Homo sapiens: one gene and its partners. The protein of the gene in region 3 purifies or fractionates together with the protein of the main gene of each other region. This does not show direct contact. Each region holds a gene or a part of one and is shown on either strand. Other genes may lie near its edges. The genes, in order: RALGAPB, RALGAPA2 and DPH7.

Region 1 (8,055 bases), on a different chromosome or scaffold from region 3:
ATTGCGCCACTGCACTCAAGCCTGGGAGTCAGAGCGAGACTCTGTCTCAAAACCAAAGCAAAACAAAACAAAACAAAAAACAAAAAGGCATGAATAAACAAACGGCAACTTTCAAATACAGTTATATCAGAAAACACAAACAATACTAGGGTTAGTTTTAACTCCCGTATGTATAGGGGCTAATAAACCTATCTGTTAGACTTCCCTCATTTTTCCCCATATAAACACAGTTCATTATATTCAGATCAGTAAATTATTATTCACCATCTACTGAGACACGAATGTAATTTCCGTAATAATAATTTGATCACCCATCTTACATCTACTCAGCTTACTACATCTACCCAACTTACCCCAGTATACCCTATTAACCCCTCCATTGTCTTGCCTATACTCCAAGTATAGGGATGATATATCTTGAAGACAAAGCAGAGAGCACTGGAAGTCTCTGAGAAGCATTTTTGATTTGGAAGCATTGGTGCTTTGAGGGACCTGCAAACTTAGGTCTAGAGGGGTTAGAAAGAATTGATGGGTAAGAAAAAGTTAAACTAGTTGCTTGCTGGCTAGGGCTTTTCCTAGGTTATTCAACCAAGTTTGCCACCACAGCAAAACAAGTAACAGTTTTAAGCAGACACTGTTCAGGAATAAAGACTGGATTTAGCTGTAGTTTCTCTCATACAGAATATCTCGGGAACCTGATGTACAGCTGAAGAGGCACTGAAAAGCAAACCTCAAAATATACATTATTTTTAAAAAGAAAACTTCTGAGCCAATGAGCAGGATTTACAAACCAAAGGCCTTTAAAATTCACAAAGATGGACATTCTGGAATATAATTTACATGAAATTCAAAAGTGATATTCTCTGACAGATTGCATGTATGCTTCTTACCATCTCCATCTGGCAACCAATGGCTTCCAAAAGTGCTGAATCTTGAACAATATTTAACATTGCCCCTACAACAACAATAAAACAGTATTTTATATAAAATACACAAGAACACTAAAATGCGTAAGACATTTTATATGATTAATAGTACAGATAAGAATATAATTTTGGTTGAGCATTCCTGAAATACCCATGAAATTATAGTTGGCTCTTAAACAAGAGCTTGAACTGTACATATGCAGGTTTTTTTCAATAAACATGTTAGAAAGTTTTTTGGAGATCTGTGACAATTTGAAAAAACTCCCAAACTGCATAGCCTAGAAATATTAAAAAAAAAAAAAAATGGCCAGGCACAGTGGTTCATGCCTATAATCCCAGCACTTTGGGTGGCCGAAGTGGGGCGGGAGGTCAAGAGTTCGAGACTAGCCTGGTCAACATGGTGAAACCCCATCTCTACTAAAAATACAAAAATTAGCCGGGTATGGTGGTGTGCGCCTGTAATCTCAGCTACTCAGGAGGCTGAGGCAGGGGAATTGCTTGAACCTGGGAGGTGGAGGTTGCAGTGAGCCGAAATTGCACCACTGCTCTCCAGCCTGGACAACAGAGCGAGACTTCATCTCAAAAAAAAAAAAAGAGAAAGAAAAGAAATATTTAAAAAAGTATAAAAAGTTAAAATTGGCCGGGCATACTAGCTCATGCCTGTAATTCTAGCACTTTGGGAGGCCGAGTCAGCAGGATTGCTTGAAGTCCTAGGAGTTTGAGACCAGAGTGGGCAACAAAGCAAGACCCTGTCTCTAAAAATAAATAAAAAATAAAAAGCTAAAATTTATCAAAAAACTTACGTACACAAACACTTACAGACCATACATGATGCCATTTGCAGTCCAGAGAAATGTAAACAAAGATGTAGTATTAAATAACTGTATAAAATTAGCTGTAGTACATACTGCACTACTGTAATCATTTTGTAGCCTCCTCCTGTTGTTACTGGGGTGAGCTCAAGTGTTAATGAGTATGCTGCTTAAAATACAATGTGATGCTAACCATCTCCATGTGAGTAGTTCATCTCTCTAACAGACTGAACACTGCAGTAAATTGCATACCATGGTTCTCACATGTTTTCATCATGTTTACTGCAACACCATGAACCTTGACTAACGCCATGGGACCCATAGGAAGTGCCACTAGTGATGCTGGAAGTGCTCCCAAGAAGCAGAGAAAAGTCATGACATTACAAGAAAAAGCTGAGTTGCTTGATATGTACTGTAGATTGGGGTCTACAGCTACAACTGCCCAACAGTTGAGACGATTTATCTTATAAACAGACAATTTATGGTATCAATAAATACAGTACTGTAAATGTATTTTCTCTTCCTTATGATTTTCTTTTTTTTGAGATGGAGCCTCACTCCGTCACCCAGGCTGGAGTCCAGTAGCGTGATCTTGGCTCACTGCAACCTCCACCTCCCGGGTTCAAGCAATTCTCTGCCTCGGCCTCCGAGTAGCTGGAATTACAGGCGCCTGCCACCACGCCTGGCTAATTTTTTTTTTCTTTTTTGTATTTTGAGTAGAGACGGGGTTTCACCATCTTGGCCAGGCTGGTCTTGAACTCCTCACCTCGTGATCCACCCACCTCGGCCTCCCAAAGTTCTGGGATTACAGGCATGAGCCACCACGCCCAAGCTTTATTTTTATTTTTATTTTATTTTTTTTTTTTGAGACGGAGTTTCGCTCTTATTGCCCAGGCTGCAGTGCAATGGCATGATCTTGGCTCACTGCAACCTCCGCCTCCCGTGTTCAAACATTCTCCTATCTCAGCCTCCCAAGTAGCTGAGACTACAGGCATGTGCCATCACACCCTGCTAATTTTTGTATTTTTAGTAGATACAGGGTTTCACCATGCTGGCCAGGGTGGTCTCGTGAGTCACCCACCTCAGCTTCCCAAAATGCTGGGATTACAACATGTATTTCTTAATAAAATATTCTTTTCTCCAGCATACTTTATTGTAAAAATGCAGTATATATTAATAATATGCATAAAATACAAAATATGTGTTAATCAACTGGTATGGGTAAGGTTTCTGGTCAACAGTAGGCTATCAGTAGTTAAGTTTTTAGGGAATCAAAAAGTTATATGTGGATCTCAACTACTCAGGGAATTGGCATCACTAACACCCATGTTGTTCAAGGGTCAACTCTACTAATAAATCCACTGATTGGTCAGAAGAGACTCTTTAAAAATTCCTTAATTCTGGCCAGGTGCATTGGTTCATGCCTATAATCCCAGCACTTTGGAAGGGTAAGGCAGGTAGATCATTTGCTATCAGGAGTTCAAGACCAGCTTGGCCAACATGGTAAAATCCTGTGTCTACTAAAAAATACAAAAATTAGCTGGGCGTGGTGGCGGGTGCCAGTAATCCCAGGTACTCAGGAGGGTGAGGTGGAAGAATTGCTTGAACCCAGGAGGCAGAGGTTGCAATAAGCCAAGATCATGCCACTGCCCTCTAGCCTGGGTGACACAGCGAGACTCCATCTCAAAAAAAAAAAATTCCCTAAAATAAATGTGGGCCAGGCACAGTGGCTCACACCTGTAATCCCAGCATTTTGGGAGGCTAAGGAGGGAGGACTGGAGAAGCCCAGAAGTCCGAGACCAGCCTGGGCAACAGAGCAAGACCCTATTCTAACAACAACAAAAAATTAGCCAGGTGTGGTGGCACACGCCTGTGGTCCCAGCTACTTCAGAGGTTGCGGCAGAAGAATCACTTGAGTCCAGGAGCTTGGGCTGCAGTGACCCATGATTGCACCACTGCGCTCCAGCCTGGGCAACAGAGCAAGAACTTGTATTTAAATAAATAAATAAATAAATAAATAAATAAATAAATAAATAAAAATAAAATGAATGTGAAGGTCAAACTTGCTTTATATAAAAACATGCTCATTATCAGATATTTTTTAACTGGTGTAAAAGACCAGATGTAAGCATCTCAATTTCAAGGGTAATATAAACTAAGGAAAATATTATGGAATACTTTCAAAACTAGGTTCTAGTCTTAAAAATAAAACAAACATTACTGTCTGTTTTTTCTACAGGGAAAAAGAAACAAATAAATAAAACAAAAATTACAAAATAAAGTCACAGCAATAGCTTTCTGACCACACTGCTTTTTAAGAATGATTAAAGCCACACAGTCTGGGGCTTGTTGACATCTGCATACCCTGAAGTAAGCTTCATTTATTTATTATCAAGGAAACCATTGTCCTGGAAAGGCTAGGACAGAAATGAGATGGTGAGCCTAACACACTGCTTCTCATCCCCGTGGGAGGTACTCTTGCCCACTATGGATAAAGAGAAGATGGAAAGAGCTTTGCCACTTTATGGCAAGAGTAACAACTGACTCTTCCTTGGAAAGTACATAGGGAGTGCCTCAGAGCAAGGGTGTAACAAAACCAAATACTGCTTCAATCGTAGAAATTATATAATTTCAAGCAAAATTATGTTATTTAAATAACCTAAAACATTGTAACTTGGAGGTTCTCACATATCAAAACATCCCCCTCCACATAAACCACCCTCTGTGTTCAGAATGTATCTGAGATATTATCAATGCCACTGGTAGACTCTGGTTCCAAACCTTGGTCAGACTGACCACATTAACTTCAGAAGGTCTCTAAAAGCCCAGCCTGAACAAGAATATAGCTATACATCATAACTGAGAATGTAAAGAGCAAAAAACTCCATTTGTGAGTCTAGAAAATCATGTCCACAATTAATGGCTTTTGAGACTTACGAAACCCTAAAAAACTTTTTGCCCAGCTACAGACAACTCCAGTCACCTACTAATTAGGTGTCTCTGGATAAATATGGTTCTTGGCCGTTGTGACCCATCTCTTCAGGATCTGTCCCTCAGTTTTAGAGGCCTTTTAGAAACCATTTCAAGGATTGTGTTCCTGTTGGAAGGACATACACCCCACCTCCTCTGGGGGCATAAGGGCTTAAAGGGAATGTCTGATCCCACTTTTGAACAGATAAAAATCTAAGATGCTAGGAAGAAGCTGAATTCTAGTCTTGCTAATGAAGAGAAGAAAGAAAGCCTCTAACCACTGCCAAGGTCAAGTCATCCTCAGAGATCAATTGCTCCATAAGCGGGGAGTTCTAACTGCCACCCAGGTTTGTGGGCTGGGATGGTATTTGCATTCACATGGTTCAGTGGGGACTCCTGTTAGGTGGCTGAGGAAAGCCCTACTTTCCTAAGAGCTTCCACTGTCAAGGGTGGTGATCTCAATACCCAGGATTGCACTTTAGTGGCACTGAGACACAGAAGCAACAACTGAAAACCCTTTGCTTTCAAATGTAATACATTGCTGTTTACCCAATTTGAACATCAGATTAGAGGAAGAAAAGAAGAGCTCCTCTGTTCATCAGGGTCTCTCTGAAGATTTTCAGGGAGATAAGACTGTCCCTTAGTGCTAACACTAGATTTGTCAATCACCAAATACCTTATGATATATTTTGAAAAACATGTAAAAAGCGGGGAGTTTAAGCATTTAAGCAAACAAGATAATTTCAGGTTTTGTGTTGTGAAAAAAATGATGAAATAAGATAATCTTTAGCAAGTATTGTTAGGGAAGCTCTCTCTTAAGAAGATGATGAAGAAAAGCTAAACAAAAATCTAGGGAAAGAACACCCCAGCAGGAGGGATATAAAGTAAGGTTCTGAAGAAATCATTAGCTGATGTGTTTGAGAAAAAAAGGACTAGGACGAAAGTGCAGACTGATGAGACCTGTAAGTAATGGGCAGGAGTAAGAGGAAGAGGCAAGAAGAAGAGGAAGAGGCAGGAGGAAGAGGACGAGGCGGGAGGAAGAGAAAGAGGCAGGAGGAAGGAGAGCAGGAAGAAAGGAGGAAAGAAGAGAGGGATGGGAAGGAGAGGCAAAGAGTGGAGAAAGGAGAGAAGGGAGAAGAGAAAGAAAAGCAAAAGCACAAATAAATGACCAACCAAGACAACTGTAACACTTTACTTCCCTCATCTCACTGCTTTAAATTTTTTTACATTAAAAAACTAACTTGTGCCTCTGATTCAGAGTAAGTAGAGCTACATTAGGTTTAGGCTCCCATTACCGACTGCCGCCTCCTCAGCAGGCCTGTAGTCAACAGTACTTTGGTTTCACTTACAAAATAACGTGTGAATACAAACCTAATATCATTTGGGTGTTGTTGGGGTCCGTTTCAGTTTGCAAGGCACCTATTAATATATTCACAAGTCTCAACTTCAGGGACAGAAAAGTTATTGGTTTATCATAAGAAGAGCTGTCATCGTTACTAAACTTTCCTTCCAGGACCACCTATGGAAAAAACAAATAATATTTAACATCAGCTGTTGCAGCTTATGATGCCCATGTGGGAACAGCTAGATGGAGGAACGGATCAGTATAATGAGAAAGGCTTTCAGTCTAATATTAGCCACTGTGCTGAATCTGTCACTAACAATATGTTAATAGATGTCCTTAGCCTATAACTGCTTGAAAACTGGTAGAAAAACTGACAGAACAAAAAAAAAAAATCACAAGTCAACTTTGTTAATTCACTTGAAATAACTTGATGAAATAACTTGAATTGAAAAATAAAAAAAGCTCCTGTTTCATTTTTAACATTCGATTTGACTTAAATTAGTACAAAAAACAGAATATAGGATATAAAAAAACTTTAACAAAACATTACCTCAGATTTGACTGTGCCAAAATGATGAGGGAGGGGCAACAAAGAAAGCAGGATATTAATGGAGGATCTTCGCAATTCTGTTGGATTTACATAGCTTTTGAATTTTGAGAGTTCTCTGCCAAAAAATAAAAAGCTATTAGTATTTTTGAACTAAAGCACATTTTTAGCTACTGCCAAATACATATAATGCCAATTTTTCCAAATCCAAGCATTGTGTATTTGTATATTGTATATTTCTAAGTTAAACTGTTACTGAATTAAACTAGAAGTTGATTGATTGATTTCTTTACCTAAAACGTAAGGCCTACTCTACAAAGGTAAGACCTCTGTGTTGGAGTTGTTCTTACCCTTCTAGACCAGGCCAAAAACGATTCAACAAGCCCACAGACAAATGAGAACTGAAGGATTTCAGGGATGAGGTGGGTTTGGACACACTACACTCATTTAATGTCGCCTGAGTTCTCTTGGACTATGAAGACAACTGGACAGGATACATTAGGAAACTGGGGAGGAAGCACCAACAGACCAGGCCAAATCAGACAGTTGATATAATAGCAGAGAATGATAGCTTACCTGTCAGGCAAAATGGTTTCAAGAGCTGAAATAAAGTAAGGAACCACAACATCAATCCCTTTCAAGTCACAGCAGAACAAAGGAGGAGAGTTTAGAATAACGCTGGCCAAGACAGGATGGCACACATAATCATTTATCTGCAAACCTTGAATTAAAAGCATGTAAAATCTAGGAAAGCAAGAAAAAAATTTTAAACAAACTGCTGATCAAAAGTTTTCATAATTATTATTTGCTACATAGTTAACTGAAAGTCTATTTCCACTCATCACTATTTTTACCCTTTAAAGAAAGGACATTATTGGAATTACTGGAATTTATTAGAATTTTACCCTTTAAAAGTTATTACTGGAATTACTGGAATTTTACCCTTTAAAGGATATTACTGGAATTAGAACAATTCTGAATCATATACACTAAGACCCAAATCATCTTTCTTAATGAAGAAAAAAAAAAATTCATGTCTGTTGCACCTTCTCAAACCTTAAGCCTTGCAACTCAAAGTTCTAGGGGCCTGCAAATAAGGCAACCAGAACAAAACAAAACAACAGGCTGCAGTACTTTTCAATAAACTGGGGGAACTGCTGAGTTAAATTCCGTAAGAGAAAAATGTTGCAACATTTAGTAATTCCTAGGGAAAAAGGTGTGTTTACATTTTTGTCCCTTCCCCATTATTTTTGGGGGGACAATGAAAGAAAGAAACCTGCATTCGATCATCTGTATTCATCATGAAGGTCACCTGAATAAGATTCCTTTTAGGAATATACCTGAATATAGCTTAGTTTTTAACTCCACCCCCAACCTCTAATCAACTTACTAAGCATTCAATCTCCCGTTATTCAACAGCAGCTGCACTGTTATACTCTTCTATTGTGAGGTGAG
Region 2 (8,055 bases), on a different chromosome or scaffold from region 3:
ACGATGCAGGTCTGACCCCTGGGAAGGAGAAGGGGAATGAAGGAAGGTTGAGTAGGAAGTGTCAGACTTCAACATAGGTCTGAGAAGGTCTTAGGCCAATAGGAAGTCCTCAAGCCAAAGTGGCCCTTCAGAGGCATCTGAAGTGTGCAGGAACAGGCAGCATTAATACTCCTGCAGTGCTCAGTAATGGGCTAAGAGCTTCCCAAGGGAAACTAAGCTTTGGCTCAAAATTGGTAGATTCAGGGAGCAGCAGCTGGGGCCATCAGTCAATCATGCTCCCCACAACAGGAGAAGCAGCACATTCTTATGGCTCTCATAGTCAGGCACAAGCAATGTCACAAGTACCATGCTTGTACTTTCAGGCATGGTTAAGGTTCAATGAATATGTGTCATCACCTGAAATCAAACACAATATCCATGGGCTCCTGAACTTTATCAAAAGGGATTTTTTTAACTTAACCATAATTGTAATATCAAAATTTGATTACTACTTTGTCCAGGCATGGTGGCTCAGGCCTGTAATCCCAGCAGTTTGGGAGGCCGAGGCGGACTAATCACTGGAGGCGAGGATTTCAAGACCAGCATAGCCAACGTGGCAAAACCTTGTCTCTACTAAAAACACAAAAATTAGCCAGGCATGGTGGCACAAGCCTGTGATCCCAGCTACTCAGGTGGCTGAGGCATGAGAATCACTTCAACCCAGGAGGCAGAGGTTGCAGTGAGGCGAAATTGCACCACTGAACTCCAGCCTGCGTGACAAACCAAGACTCCATCTCAAAAAAAAAAAGAGATTACAACTATTTTTAAAATAGCTGTGGCTTCAGTTTCTAAAACAACATAAAAGACATAAAATGGTTATGAAACATCACTTTTCTGAAAATTAAGGCTAAAACCCTGAATTGAGGATTCAGAATGAACTCAGAAACAAATCTACTAAGAATCTATATGGTAAATCCTTTAAATGACATAATCTCTCTAAAATTCCTATTTTAACTTTATCAAATTCTCAATTGCTAGATTTTGCTAGCGGATTCTGGATCCTCTCACCTGAAAATGCTATTTGTATTGACACATCCAGGAGGCTTTAACTATGTAAAGATAACCTGTATTAGAGACCACCTAAAATACATTCACAAATAGATATTTAATAAATTTCTTTTATAATTAATATGAACTGATTGCTTAAGGTAGTAATTTGATTAAATGAGACTATGAGAAGACATTTTGCAAAAGTGTAAACTGGTACATGAACATGAGATATCAACAGAGTTACATTTTATATGCGGTTAAGTCACAAGAAAGGCAAAAGTAGAAAAAATTAAAATGATCCTTTAACTCTGGAGTCATACCCAGCAGGGGGATGTTCTCACAATGAAAGGCATAAAGGAAAGAAGACTATGGACGACATGGCGGGTTCCTATGTCCCACCTTAGGTCCACTCTAGGGCACATGTTCATTGAGTGGAAGGGCACACAACATCTGTGCTACTTAAACTGGCCTCATTCTATATAGATTTTCCGCCTTCTTGATGAATATTTAACATAAACGTTAAATGCATTTTTCAGTCACTCCCTAAGGAAAAAAAACAAAGCCTTCCAGATAACAGATGTCCTTTTTTTAAGAGGTTATGTGGCACAGAAGAGGGAGCAAGACATATTCAAGTTCCTATCACCACATGAGTAAGAAAACTGGCTCAGCAAATGACTTCACCTGCTACCTTCACAGAGGGTACAGAAGCCATGGTGTGAGAACTCCCTCCATGTCCCCATCATCTAGCACCCCATTCCTGCTTCTTTCAAGTGGCCTTAGAGGAAGAGGTGTCCCTCTTGTTAAGCCTGATCTCCCACCCCAGGCTCTCAGTCTCACTGCAGATCACACCGTTCTGCATTATTATCCCCCGTTTCTTCAGTTTTGCTCTTCATTAGCTACTTCTCCTATATAAACTCAAATTCCTCCAGTTCTAAAAAAATATAAAAGTCAAATCTCCATATACACAAACACCTCCATGTTAGGTACTCTTTCAACTCCAAGACCCAGAAATATGACTCAAGCTAGTTAACATGTTACCAGTTCCTGCAACTGAGCAGCTCAAGAAGGTCCTGGCAAAGACATGGCCAAACTCAGGACTCATGGGCTTCCTCTCACTCTCCACCTCTCTATTGTCATTCCCTCTGAGAGTAGGATTCAATTTAAGGCACATGCTCCCCACATGGTGGGAAAAACAAATGCCAGCAGCCCAGACTATATCTTCAGGGCTTGCAATCCAAAGGAAGGGAGCTCTCTCTCTCCCAGCATCTATGTTTCAAATCTCAGAGGAGAATGGGATTCTCAGACACTAAATGGGAAGAGATAGGATGTGGCTCCTCTTCTGCTTAAAACCCTTCACTGGAGTCCCAACATCTACTTACGCCACAGGATAAAAGCCATTGTGCACTTAACTCCATGGTGCTACACACCATTACCTTTGCACAAGCTCCTCTCTCTACAGAACCCTCATCCCCAACTTGTCCATCTGGTAAAATCCTTTATCCATTATTCAAAACCTACCTCAGACCTAAGCTCCCTAAAGAAGCACTGGCTGGTGTCTCCAGGAGGCTTTGCTGCTGTTCCTCCTCTGCACCTGTGCCCACCTCTATGGTTCCACCACACTCCTCTGTGCCACTCAAAACCCTCACGGTAAATTTCATTGTTTACATGGCTATTTCTCCTACCAAACCATAAATCCTGGGCTTGTGCCTTATTAACATCCAAACACAGACTTACTTATATCAGGCATGCACTCACACAGTCTTTAAAACAATGTTTGTGACTTGATTTTTGTTGTTGTTGATACAGGGTCTTGCTCTGTCACCTAAGCTGGAGTGCAGTGGCATGATCAAGGTTCACTGTAGCCTTGACCTTCTGGGCCCAAGTGATCCTCCAGCCTCAGCCTCCCGAGGAGCTGGGACCACAGCACATGCAACCATACCCAGCTAATTTCTTCATTTTTTTTGTAGAGAAGGGGTCTCACTATATTGCCCAGGCTAGTACTGAACTTCTGGGCTGATCCTCTCACTTAACCCTAGCAAAGTGTTGGGATTACAGCCATGAGCAATTGCACCCAGCTTGATTTTTTTTTAATTCAAGTACAAGAATAGTTGTTTAATACCTTATATTCGTTATTCTTAATTTCACAGAACAATAATTTATATGCCTTCTTTTAAAAAATTTTTAAAATTCAAATTGAAACAACTTGCTATTTTGAAAGTCAAGTTTTGTTGTTGTTGTTGTTTTGTTTTGTTTTGTTTTGTTTTTGAGAGTCTTACTCTGTTGCCTAGGCTGGAGTGCAGTGGTGCGATCTCTGCTCACTGCAACCTCCACCTCCCAGATTCAAGCAGTTCTCCTGCCTCAGCCTCCCGAGCAGCTGGGATTACAGGCACGCGCAACCACCCCTGGCTAATTTTTGTATTTTTACTAGAGACGGTGTTTCACCATGTTGGCCAGGCTGGCCTTCAACTCCTGACCTCGTGATCTGCCCACCTCGGCCTCCCAAAGTGTTGGGATTATAGGCGTGAGCCACCGCACCCCGCCAAGGTTTTTTCTAAATAAAAAATTCTCTATAGTTTTATATTGATACCCCGTTTGGTAACCAAAAATCAGTACTCTACATACCTAGTAAAAGTATTATGCCTGTCCACAAATAAAGTACTTACAAAATAAAAATCCAAATTATAAAAGTTTACAGCAAAATATTCTAGACCTACCAATTATCTCCCTTCTCAGAGTAAAAGATGGAAGCCAACCTTTTTCAGTTATCTTAAACGAGTTTGGACATTTACCCTGTGTTCACTTTTCTCACATCAGAAGTCTAGACAACCTCAAGCCTTAGAGGGATGGATGGTGTATTTGTGCTACATATACGTGTCCAAAGTTCCATTTACATTCTAGAGGTTATAAATGTAATTGATGAAAAAACAGCAAAGGAAGCATTACGACAAAATCACTTTGTACCAAATAAGGTCAACAGAGAGAGACCATACTAAGACTGCCTGAAGAGTTTGAAATTACACCTCCCAGCTTTGTTCTAGTTGTAGAATGTCCACGTGGCATTAATGTCCACGCAAATATTTATCACCTGCTAGGCCTGCCAAGGTTACAGGGAAGGCAATGAACACTAAAACACCGGAGGAGATTGTTTATCGTCTGCCCATGCTCAAATCAAATATGATAATCCCAAGTCTCCCTAGAAAAATGCAGAAAAATGGACCAGAAAGAGAGAGGCCAATATCACAGCAACATTTCTGGGAGGCATGCAAAAACTGTTGTGATTTTGTTTCTATGTTATCATTCATTCTACTAGATAAATACATTTTCTGATATGTAAATTTCCTTTTGAATCAGATAACTAGCAGAAGCATAACATGGCCTTCATAATCAGATAAGTCTCAGCTTTCCCACTTGCTGGCAGACAAGTAGCTATTCTCACTGAGCTTCAGTTTCCTCAGCTGGGGATAGGAACACTTCCTTTGTCACAGTTGCAAAAAGATTCAATGATGTCATGATGATAATAACCAATAAAACTAAATATATGATAGCATTCTATCATTTCATTAAGGTCCAGATCCCATGTCCCACAACCCCCCAGACACGCCACTTGGATCTTGCCTTTTCTTAAACTCAACATGTAGAACACCAAACTCATCTTCCCCGTCCTTGCCCAGGATCCCTTCCCCCTTCCCAATTGTTCTCACTCTGTAGATGACACTCCTATTATCCCAAATACCTACCACCAATTATCAAATTATAAAAAGGTGTTTATTGGTAGTCAGACTACAGTGAAAATGGCAGCCTCAATCCTTGCTGCTAGCAGGGCCAATGGAGCAACACTTAGAAAAGCACTGTGAAACAAGTCATCGAATGTTCAAACCCAGCAATCTTACTTCAATAAAATCTAAGGAAATATCGAAAAAGCTGCTTCTCAAGATGTTTACTGCAGTATTACTTCTATCAGGAAAAGGGAAGGAAGAAAAAAAAGGAAAGAAGGAAGGAGAGAAAAGAACAAAATTTCACAATCCAGGAAATGGTAAGCTAAATTATGGGATATGGTCTCAACAAATGTTTGTACTTAAAAATGAGAGGAACAAAACATCAAAAATGCTAATGATAAAATAAAGACAACAGTTACAACTGTAAGTCAATTTGTTCCTACCTAGAGCAACATGAGCAACATATGCACAAAAGGAACTATACGACAATGCTATGTTTTGCTCTGTTTGTATATACAGCATTTGTGAGAGACGGTTCTCTACTCTCTGGTCCAAACCCAGGTCACTTGATTTGACCTGAGTCTGGCTTCTGATCCCCCAGCCAGCCTCAGCTTCTGCTTGTCAGGCTACTGTTCCACTCCTTCCCCAGGAACCTACCCTACCCCTGGCCTATGCAGGACACTGGGGACATCCTCTGGGCAAGGGTCCTCAGTGCCCAACACCACACCTCGCCATGTTACTTACCATCACTGTCATGTTACTTCTGCCACCAGCTCTTCCATCTTCCCCTGGTTGTAATTGACCTTCCCCTCTACTTTCCCAGATTCTAACCTTGCTATGTCCAGTGTGCAGCCACTAGTGACATATGGCTAATGAGCACTTGAAAAACAGCTAGTGTGAACTGATATGTGCTGTAAGTATACAATATACACTGAATTTCAAAAACTTCATATGAAAAAAAGATGTAAAAAATACTGATAGCATTTTATATTGATTACCTGCAGATATAATATATATTAAATACATGGAGTTAAATAAAATGCACTATTAAAATTAATTTCACCTGATTCTTTTTACTTTTTAACATGTGGTCACTAAAAAAGATTAAAATTGCACATGTGGCTTACATTATATCTCTATTGGACAGAACTAGTCTAACCATTCTTTGGAACCCAGCGTAAGTAAAACGTTGATATGATTTGGCTGTGTCCCCATCCAAATCTCACCTGGAATTGTAATAATCCCCATATGTCAAGGGCCGGGTGGAGATAATTGAATCATGAGGGTGGCTTCCCCCATACTGTTCTCATGGTAGTGAATGAATCTCACAAGATCTGATGGTTTTATAAATGGGATTTCCCCTGCACAAGCTCTCTTGCCTGCCACCATGTAAGACATGACTTTGCTTCTCATTCACCTTCTGCCATGATTGTGAGGCCTCCCGAGGCATGTGGAACTGTGAGTCAATTAAACCTCCTTCCTTTATAAATTACCCAGTCTCAGGTATGTCTTTATTAGCAGAGTGAGAACAGACTACTACAAATCTCCTTAAAGATGCCCCTATTTTTATGACATTCTTAATTATCTCTTTTGTTCTCTGAAATCCTATAATGGATTCTACCATATACCTGACCATCTAATTACATAACACACCATAAATTTACTATTATTTTGTATCTATTCTTCTCACTACATCAATGCCAGTTCTATATCCTAATTTAGGACTCATAGTAAGCACTCAACTTTTAATTAGAATCTGGCCAGGCATGGTGGCTTATGCCTGTAAGCCCAGCACTTTGGGAGGCTGAAGTGGGAGGATCGTTTGAGTCTGTGAGCTCAAGACCAGCCTGGGCAACATGGCAAAACCCCGTCTTCTACAAAAAATACAAAAATCTGGCCGGACATGGTGGCTCACACCTGTAATCCCAGCTCTTTGGGAGGCCGAGTCGGGCAGATCACCTGAAGCCAGGAGTTCAAGACCAGCCTGGCCAACACGGTGAACCCCTGTCTCTACTAAAAATACAAAAATTAGCCAGGCATGGTGGTACACACCTGTAATCCCAGCCACTCAGGAGGCTGAGGCATGAGAATTGCTTGAGCCCAGGAGGCGGAGGTTGCAGTGAGCCAAGACGGCACCACTGCACTCCAGCGTGGGTAACAGAGTGAGACTCCATCTCAAAAAAAAAAAATACAAAAATGAGCCTAGTGTGGTGGTACATGCCTGTAGCCCCAGCTACTCCAGGGGCTGAGGTGGGAGATTACTCGAGCCAGGGAGGCCAAGGCTGCAGCAGTTGAGGCAAGGTCAAACTACTGTACTCCAACGTGGACAACAGAGCAAAGATCCTGTTAAAAAAAAGACATGGAATCTTTGCTGGAGCAATATGGTAATACACAGGGTTTTTTGGTTTTTGTTTTGTCAACAGTGTAGGAAGAACTGGAAGTCACAGGACCTAACAGCTCTTCGTTCTTCCTCTAACATAAGTAAACCGTCTGCTACATGGCTTGATACGTGTCAAGCCTGCCTGTGCCTCAGCTTACCCCTCTGTAAAATAAAGTTAATCATACCAGACCAGTCTATAGCCAGGTGAAAGTATCTACATCCAAATTGGAGTTATTACCATGATACTAAGAAATACTCTACTTCCACAGCTAATTTTATGTTTCTCACCCAGTTGTTTTAAATACAGACTACTTTTTAGGAAAAGAGAACAAATTCATCACTATTATCAAAAATAAGAAAGACGGAGAAAAATTACCTATCAAAATACTGGTCCTATCCTATTAATGGTGGGAGATATGTAATGGGAAAGAAACTGTTAAAGGCCTACTTCAAGCTGAAGTCATTTATTCATCATACTCACAATAATCCTTTAAAAAGCAAACATTACCATACCCATTTTACAGAGCAAAGAAACCGAGGTTCAGAGACAGGCTACGTAACTAGCTCAAGTCATGAAGCTGCAGGCGGCAGGGACAGGCTGCAAATACCCAAGTAAGTGGCATAATCTTTGCATACTTAAAAAAAAACTTTATTATCACTTGAAGATAAAATATATGAAAAGCAAAAGTGTTATATAAATACACACATAAAAATACAATAGTAATTACTATTCATTTCCTTCAAATAGTTTCCTTAATCTTGGCTTAATTCCTAACTTTCAGTTCAAGAGGCCTTTGTTTTCTAAGTAGACTTTTTTTCGAGTAGCAATGAAATAGAATATGTGATTAGGTAGGAACTAGTGCATTACGTACTACTTTTTAAGTCTTTAATAAATCACAGGAGCAAGTGAAAGTTTACATTAAATATTAT
Region 3 (8,055 bases):
CTTCTGATCTTCTTCACTCTCCCTGTGGGCCCTGCTCTTGAGCTTCCCTTCCTTCAGGTGCCACCATTCACCCCATGTCTGCATTGCTTTTCTTGGAAGATTGGTTGTGGTTCAGTGCACCAACTCCTCTCTTCTCCCATCCTTTTCGTTCCCCTAAACAAGTGCTTTAAGATGACAGAGGGCACCTTCCTTTCAGGTGCATGGTGTGGAGTCCTTGTGCTTGCTGCCTCCTGTGTGCAGTTTCTGTTCAGGGCTCTGATCTGGCAACTCTTCTTCTTAGAAGCCAGGGCTTTATTCACTGGAGCCCTTAGCAAAGGCAGTTTAGCCCCTAGGACCTAGTAACGGCCCCTGTGAACAATGGTCGCCTGCACCTGATGGCCTTCAGGGCCCCTTCAGTTTCCATTTCCTCCCTTCTGTTCCTGCAGGCTTCTTTCTGTTCCCGTCCGTCTTTCCCCTCCTGCTTCCAGTCTCTAGAGAGTCAAGGCACAGTGATGACTTTCCTGGGGGTTGTTTCTGGGACCTCCTGTTGAGGTGGCAACCTAAGACTCCTCCAGCAAAGTCACCAGGGGAACTTCCTCACAGACAGAGTCACCCCGGGGAGCTTCCTCACAGACAGAGTCACCCAGGGGAGCTTCCTCACAGACAGTCACCCAGGGGAGCTTCCTCACAGACAGAGTCACCCAGGGGAGCTTCCTCACAGACAGAGTCACCCAGGGGAGCTTCCTCACAGACAGAGTCACCCAGGGGAGCTTCCTCACAGACAGAGTCACCCAGGGGAGCTTCCTCACAGACAGAGTCACCCAGGGGAGCTTCCTCACAGACAGAGTCACCCAGGGGAGCTTCCTCACAGACAGTCACCCAGGGGAGCTTCCTCACAGACAGAGTCACCCAGGGGAGCTTCCTCACAGAGTCACCCAGGGGAGCTTCCTCACAGACAGAGTCACCCAGGGGAGCTTCCTCACAGACAGTCACCCAGGGGAGCTTCCTCACAGACAGAGTCACCCAGGGGAGCTTCCTCACAGACAGAGTCACCCCGGGGAGCTTCCTCACAGACAGAGTCACCCAGGGGAGCTTCCTCACAGACAGAGTCACCCAGGGGAGCTTCCTCACAGACAGAGTCACCCAGGGGAGCTTCCTCACAGACAGTCACCCAGGGGAGCTTCCTCACAGACAGAGTCACCCAGGGGAGCTTCCTCACAGACAGAGTCACCCCGGGGAGCTTCCTCACAGACAGAGTCACCCCGGGGAGCTTCCTCACAGACAGAGTCACCCCGGGGAGCTTCCTCACAGACAGAGTCACCCCGGGGAGCTTCCTCACAGACAGAGTCACCCAGGGGAGCTTCCTCACAGACAGAGTCACCCAGGGGAGCTTCCTCACAGACAGAGTCACCCAGGGGAGCTTCCTCACAGACAGAGTCACCCAGGGGAGCTTCCTCACAGACAGAGTCACCCCGGGGAGCTTCCTCACGGACAGAGTCACCCCGGGGAGCTTCCTCACGGACAGAGTCACCCAGGGGAGCTTCCTCACAGACAGTCACCCAGGGGAGCTTCCTCACAGACAGAGTCACCCAGGGGAGCTTCCTCACAGACAGAGTCACCCAGGGGAGCTTCCTCACAGACAGAGTCACCCAGGGGAGCTTCCTCACAGACAGTCACCCAGGGGAGCTTCCTCACAGACAGTCACCCCGGGGAGCTTCCTCACAGACAGAGTCACCCAGGGGAGCTTCCTCACAGACAGAGTCACCCAGGGGAGCTTCCTCACAGACAGAGTCACCCAGGGGAGCTTCCTCACAGACAGAGTCACCCAGGGGAGCTTCCTCACAGACAGTCACCCAGGGGAGCTTCCTCACAGACAGAGTCACCCAGGGGAGCTTCCTCACAGACAGAGTCACCCAGGGGAGCTTCCTCACAGACAGTCACCCAGGGGAGCTTCCTCACAGACAGTCACCCCGGGGAGCTTCCTCACAGACAGAGTCACCCCGGGGAGCTTCCTCACAGACAGAGTCACCCAGGGGAGCTTCCTCACAGACAGAGTCACCCAGGGGAGCTTCCTCACAGACAGAGTCACCCAGGGGAGCTTCCTCACAGACAGTCACCCAGGGGAGCTTCCTCACAGACAGAGTCACCCCGGGGAGCTTCCTCACAGACAGAGTCACCCAGGGGAGCTTCCTCACAGACAGAGTCACCCAGGGGAGCTTCCTCACAGACAGAGTCACCCAGGGGAGCTTCCTCACAGACAGAGTCACCCAGGGGAGCTTCCTCACAGACAGTCACCCAGGGGAGCTTCCTCACAGACAGTCACCCCGGGGAGCTTCCTCACAGACAGAGTCACCCCGGGGAGCTTCCTCACAGACAGAGTCACCCCGGGGAGCTTCCTCACAGACAGAGTCACCCAGGGGAGCTTCCTCACAGACAGAGTCACCCAGGGGAGCTTCCTCACAGACAGAGTCATCCAGGGGAGCTTCCTCACAGACAGAGTCACCCAGGGGAGCTTCCTCACAGACAGAGTCACCCAGGGGAGCTTCCTCACAGACAGAGTCACCCAGGGGAGCTTCCTCACAGACAGAGTCATCCAGGGGAGCTTCCTCACAGACAGAGTCACCCCGGGGAGCTTCCTCACAGACAGAGTCACCCCGGGGAGCTTCCTCACAGACAGAGTCACCCCGGGGAGCTTCCTCACAGACAGAGTCACCCCGGGGAGCTTCCTCACAGACAGAGTCACCCAGGGGAGCTTCCTCACAGACAGAGTCACCCAGGGGAGCTTCCTCACAGACAGTCACCCAGGGGAGCTTCCTCACAGACAGAGTCACCCAGGGGAGCTTCCTCACAGACAGAGTCACCCAGGGGAGCTTCCTCACAGACAGTCACCCAGGGGAGCTTCCTCACAGACAGAGTCACCCAGGGGAGCTTCCTCACAGACAGTCACCCCGGGGAGCTTCCTCACAGACAGAGTCACCCAGGGGAGCTTCCTCACAGACAGAGTCACCCAGGGGAGCTTCCTCACAGACAGTCACCCAGGGGAGCTTCCTCACAGACAGAGTCACCCAGGGGAGCTTCCTCACAGACAGAGTCACCCAGGGGAGCTTCCTCACAGACAGTCACCCAGGGGAGCTTCCTCACAGACAGAGTCACCCAGGGGAGCTTCCTCACAGACAGTCACCCAGGGGAGCTTCCTCACAGACAGAGTCACCCAGGGGAGCTTCCTCACAGACAGTCACCCCGGGGAGCTTCCTCACAGACAGAGTCACCCAGGGGAGCTTCCTCACAGACAGAGTCACCCAGGGGAGCTTCCTCACAGACAGTCACCCAGGGGAGCTTCCTCACAGACAGTCACCCCGGGGAGCTTCCTCACAGACAGAGTCACCCCGGGGAGCTTCCTCACAGACAGAGTCACCCCGGGGAGCTTCCTCACAGACAGAGTCACCCAGGGGAGCTTCCTCACAGACAGAGTCACCCAGGGGAGCTTCCTCACAGACAGAGTCATCCAGGGGAGCTTCCTCACAGACAGAGTCACCCAGGGGAGCTTCCTCACAGACAGAGTCACCCAGGGGAGCTTCCTCACAGACAGAGTCACCCAGGGGAGCTTCCTCACAGACAGAGTCACCCAGGGGAGCTTCCTCACAGACAGAGTCACCCAGGGGAGCTTCCTCACAGACAGAGTCACCCCGGGGAGCTTCCTCACAGACAGTCACCCAGGGGAGCTTCCTCACAGACAGTCACCCAGGGGAGCTTCCTCACAGACAGAGTCATCCAGGGGAGCTTCCTCACAGACAGAGTCACCCAGGGGAGCTTCCTCACAGACAGAGTCACCCAGGGGAGCTTCCTCACAGACAGTCACCCCGGGGAGCTTCCTCACAGACAGTCACCCAGGGGAGCTTCCTCACAGACAGAGTCACCCCGGGGAGCTTCCTCACAGACAGTCACCCCGGGGAGCTTCCTCACAGACATCAACGGCCTAACTGAGAACACTCATTTCCTGTCATTAGTGGTGTTGATGCTTCTCTTTCTCCACACAGGGGGCGACGATGGCCTTCTGAGGGGCTGGGACACCAGGGTACCCGGCAAATTTCTCTTCACCAGCAAAAGGTAACTGCCCAAGGGCCAGCACTCGGTGCCCACACCAGCCCCCGCGTTCCCTGGGTCACCAGCCCTCCCGTTCCCTGGGTGGGTCTGTGTGCTGGACACTGGTTCAGAAGCCGCCTCTGCTTGCAGACACACCATGGGTGTGTGCAGCATCCAGAGCAGCCCTCATCGGGAGCACATCCTGGCCACGGGAAGGTGAGTCCCCAGGAGGCTCTCGGGCCCTTCTCGTCTCTTTCGCTGTCCCCGGGGGGCTCCTGGGCCCTTCTTCCCTCTTTCGCTGCCTTTCCTCCTGGCACCATTGCAGCATTTCGTCTGCCAGTGCTTCGCCGGAGTGTAGGTATATGGGTTTGGTAAAGGGGACTTTGTCCTCGAGGGATGCATGGGACAGGTCTCTGGGAGACGTTCTGTGCCCCCCAGGGGCCTTGTGGAACAGGTGAGCCTGGGCTTTCCTTATATGCCTCCTGTGGTTGGTCGGTTTCAGCTATGATGAACACATCCTACTGTGGGACACACGAAACATGAAGCAGCCGTTGGCAGATACGCCTGTGCAGGGTGGGGTATGGAGAATCAAGTGGCACCCTTTCCACCACCACCTGCTCCTGGCCGCCTGCATGCACAGTGGCTTTAAGATCCTCAACTGCCAAAAGGCAATGGGTGAGTGGGGACCCGTGGCTGCTGGGCCTCAGGGCAGGGCACCAGTTCCCTGCCCCCTCGCTCTGCTGGGCTCTTCCCTCAGCTCCCTGCTCCCTTGCTCTGCTGGGCTCTTCCCTCAGCTTTTACACACTCCCAGCGTCGCGCCCTAGACTTGGTCGTGATCCATAACTGTCCCAGCTCCAGAATCTCTGCTCTCTAACCACAGTTTTCCCTGGTTTCCCAGCTCCGTCATTCCGGTGCCTCCTGCATTTCGGCAGACCTCTGACCCCACTGGGACCTCTAGTCTGGAGGCTTGGCCACCCATCACTCCCATAACCATCCTTGTCTGTGCTCTCCCATGCTCTTCCTGCCTGTGGTCAGCTGGGACTCTGTGGTCTGCTGCCCCCTGTGAGCTCACACTCCATTCCCTTCATCCCTTTCTCACACTCTGGGCAGAACCCAGTGTTGTTTTGTTGGGAACAAGCACCTCTGATTCTGGTTGAGCCGGAGAACGTGGCTGGAATCAGCTGTCCACGTTGTGTTCTAGTAGGTCCCTGGGATTCCTGGTGATCTGTAACATTTCTCTAGGCAGTAATCCCCCACTGTCAGAACTGGTTCACATTTTCTTCTCTCTGCTCAAACCTCCAGGACCTCCTCTTCCCTCCTGACTTGCAGCTCATGATCTCTCCTCTTTCGCCTCTTCTCTCTCCCCTCACTCCAAAAATAAGCAATCACAAAACCACCTCATCTTCCCACCATTAAGCCCACCAGCCTCTCGGGCCACCCACATGCTCTCTGCCCTCTGCAGCGGTGGGTGACCCACACCTGTTCCCAAGGCCAGTTTCTTCTCTGCACTGGATTGTACTCAAGGACTTGATTGACTCGATTTCCGCATGGTATTCCTCTTTTTTTTTTTTTTTTTTGAGACGGAGTCTTGCTCTGTCACCCAGGCTGGAGTGCAGTGGTGCGATCTCGGCTCACCACAGCCTTCGCCTCCTGGGTTCTAGCGATTCTCCTGCCTCAGCCTCCCAAGTAGCTGGGATTACAGGCACCCACCACCATGCCTGGCTGATTTTTATAGTTTTAGAAGAGATGGGGGGTTCACCATGTTGGTCAGGCTGGTCTGGAACTCCTGACCTCGTGATCCGCCTGCCTTGGCCTCCCGAAGTGTTAGGATTACAGGCGTGAGCCACCGTGCCTGGCCTGTATTCCTCTGTGTTTTGCATCTTTAGTTTCTCCATCTCTTCTGTATTGTTTCTGTTAGTTCTGTGAATGTGCTTTGTATTTCTCATCGTTTTTTGTTTTGTTTTGAGATGGTGTCTTGCTCTGTCACCCAGGCTGGAGTGTGGTGGTGCAATTGTAGCTCACTGCAGCCTCAACCTCCTGGGGCTCAAACCATCCTCCCATCTCAGCCTCCTGAGTAGCTGGGACCCCCATGCCAAGCCATAATATTTCTTGTATTAAAACAATTTGAGATCTTTTTTTTTTGAGATGGAGTCTTGCTCTGTCACCCAGAATGGTGTACAGTGGTGTGATCTCGTCTCACTGCAACCTCTGCTTCCTGGCTTCAAGCAATTCTCCTGCCTCAGCCTCCAGAGTAGCTGGGATCACAGGCTTGTGCCACCACGCCTGGCTAATTTTTGTATTTTTAGTAGAGACGGGGTTTCACCACGTTGGCCAGGCTGGTCTTGAACTCCTGACCTCAGGTGATCCGCCCACCTTGGCCTCCCAAAGTACAGGCATGAGCCACCGTGCCCAGCCCCTGGGCTCAAACCATCCTTCCACCTCAGCCTCCCGAGTAGCTGGGACCACCATGCCCAGCCATAATATTTCTCATCTTAAAACAATTTGAGGTCTTTTTTCTTTATTAATGGTGATACATTTTCCTCTGAGCACTGCTTTTGCTGCAACCCATACATTTTGGTATGTTGTATTTTTATTTTCATTCATCTCAAGGTACTTTCTAATTTCCCATGTGGTTTTTTTCTTCGACCATTGGTTATTTATGAGTGTGTTGTTTAATGTACATGTTTTTAAGTGCCCACATTTCTTTCTGTTACCGATTTCTAATGTTATTCCATTGTGCATTCCTGTTGAATTTACTGAGATTAGTTTTGTGGCCTAGAGTGTGGTCTCTGCTGGGGAGTGCCCCTGTGCACTTGCGGACGTGTGTTCTGCTGCTGTTGGCTGGAGTGCCCTGTAGGTGCCTGTGAGGTCTCGGCTTTATAATGTTCAGATCTTCTGGTTCCTTACTGAATCTCCTGTCTGGGCAATATTGAAAGTGGTCTGTTGGCTGGGCACGGTGGCTCACGCCTGTAATCCCAGTACTTTGGGAGGCTGAGGTGGGCAGATCACAAGGTCAGGAGATCGAGACCATCCTGGCTAACATGGTGAAACCCCGTCTCTACTAAAAATACAAAAAATTAGCCAGGCGCTGTGGTGGGTGCCTGCAGTCCCAGCTACTTGGGAGGCTGAGGCAGGAGAATGGCGTGAACCCAGGAGGCGGAGCTTGCAGTGAGCCGAGATCGCGCCACTGCACTCCAGCCTGGGAGACACAGCGAGACTCCATCTCAAAAAAATAAAAGAAAGTGGGCTATTGCTACCTCCAACTCTAACTGTAGAATTATGTATTTCCAGCCTCGTTTCCATCAGTTTTTACTTCACGTATTTTGGGGATCTCTTTTATATATGTTTATAATTCTGGTATCTTCCAGATGTGCTGACCCTTTTATCAATATAAAGTGTCTGTCTTTAAATCTAGTAACATTTTTTGTTTTAAAGTCAGTTTTGTCTGGCATTGGTAAAGTCACTTCAGTGTGGCGTGATGCATCGTTTTCATTCTCTTTCAGTTCACACCTGAGTCTGAGGCGAGTCTTTGGTATGGGGTCATGCTTTTTTTTTTTTTTTTTTTTGAGATGGAGTCTCGCTCTGTCACCCAGGCTGGAATGCAGTGGCGCTATCTTGGCTCACTGCAACCTCCACCTTCCGGGTTCACGCCGCCATTCTCCTGCCTCAGCCTCCCGAGTAGCTGGGAATACAGGCACCTGCCACCACGCCTGGCTAATTTTTGTATTTTTATTGGAGACGAGGTTTCACCATGTTGGCCGGGGTCGTGCATTTTTGCCAGGAAACCTGTGAAAGTGGCGCTGTGCCCTCCTTAGTTCCTCACATCAAGGGCCTATGATGCCACATTGTTCCATTTTTGTGAAATTTGGTCACTTTGTTAAGGTGGTGTTTGCCCCAATCCCTTCACTGAAGAGATACTATTTTCCTCTTTGGGATTAATCAGTAATCTGTGGTGAGAATCTTTGAACCTGTGTCAATAACTCCCTTTTCAGA

The links.
Region 1: the proteins of DPH7 (region 3) and RALGAPB purify together in Homo sapiens (affinity purification with mass spectrometry; 2 studies listed by BioGRID and IntAct, with this or other methods). This does not show direct contact.
Region 2: the proteins of DPH7 (region 3) and RALGAPA2 purify together in Homo sapiens (affinity purification with mass spectrometry; 2 studies listed by BioGRID and IntAct, with this or other methods). This does not show direct contact.

What each region holds. Positions count from the first base shown.
Region 1 is NC_000020.11:38,524,067-38,532,121, reverse strand, and holds part of RALGAPB (ral GTPase-activating protein subunit beta), read right to left. Parts: intron 7,345-8,055; coding exon 7,177-7,344; intron 6,719-7,176; coding exon 6,604-6,718; intron 6,228-6,603; coding exon 6,080-6,227; intron 956-6,079; coding exon 891-955; intron 1-890. UniProt on the Homo sapiens protein: Non-catalytic subunit of the heterodimeric RalGAP1 and RalGAP2 complexes which act as GTPase activators for the Ras-like small GTPases RALA and RALB.
Region 2 is NC_000020.11:20,702,397-20,710,451, forward strand, and holds part of RALGAPA2 (ral GTPase-activating protein subunit alpha-2), read right to left. Parts: intron 1-8,055.
Region 3 is NC_000009.12:137,561,116-137,569,170, reverse strand, and holds part of DPH7 (diphthine methyltransferase), read left to right. Parts: intron 1-4,016; coding exon 4,017-4,086; intron 4,087-4,212; coding exon 4,213-4,278; intron 4,279-4,564; coding exon 4,565-4,737; intron 4,738-8,055.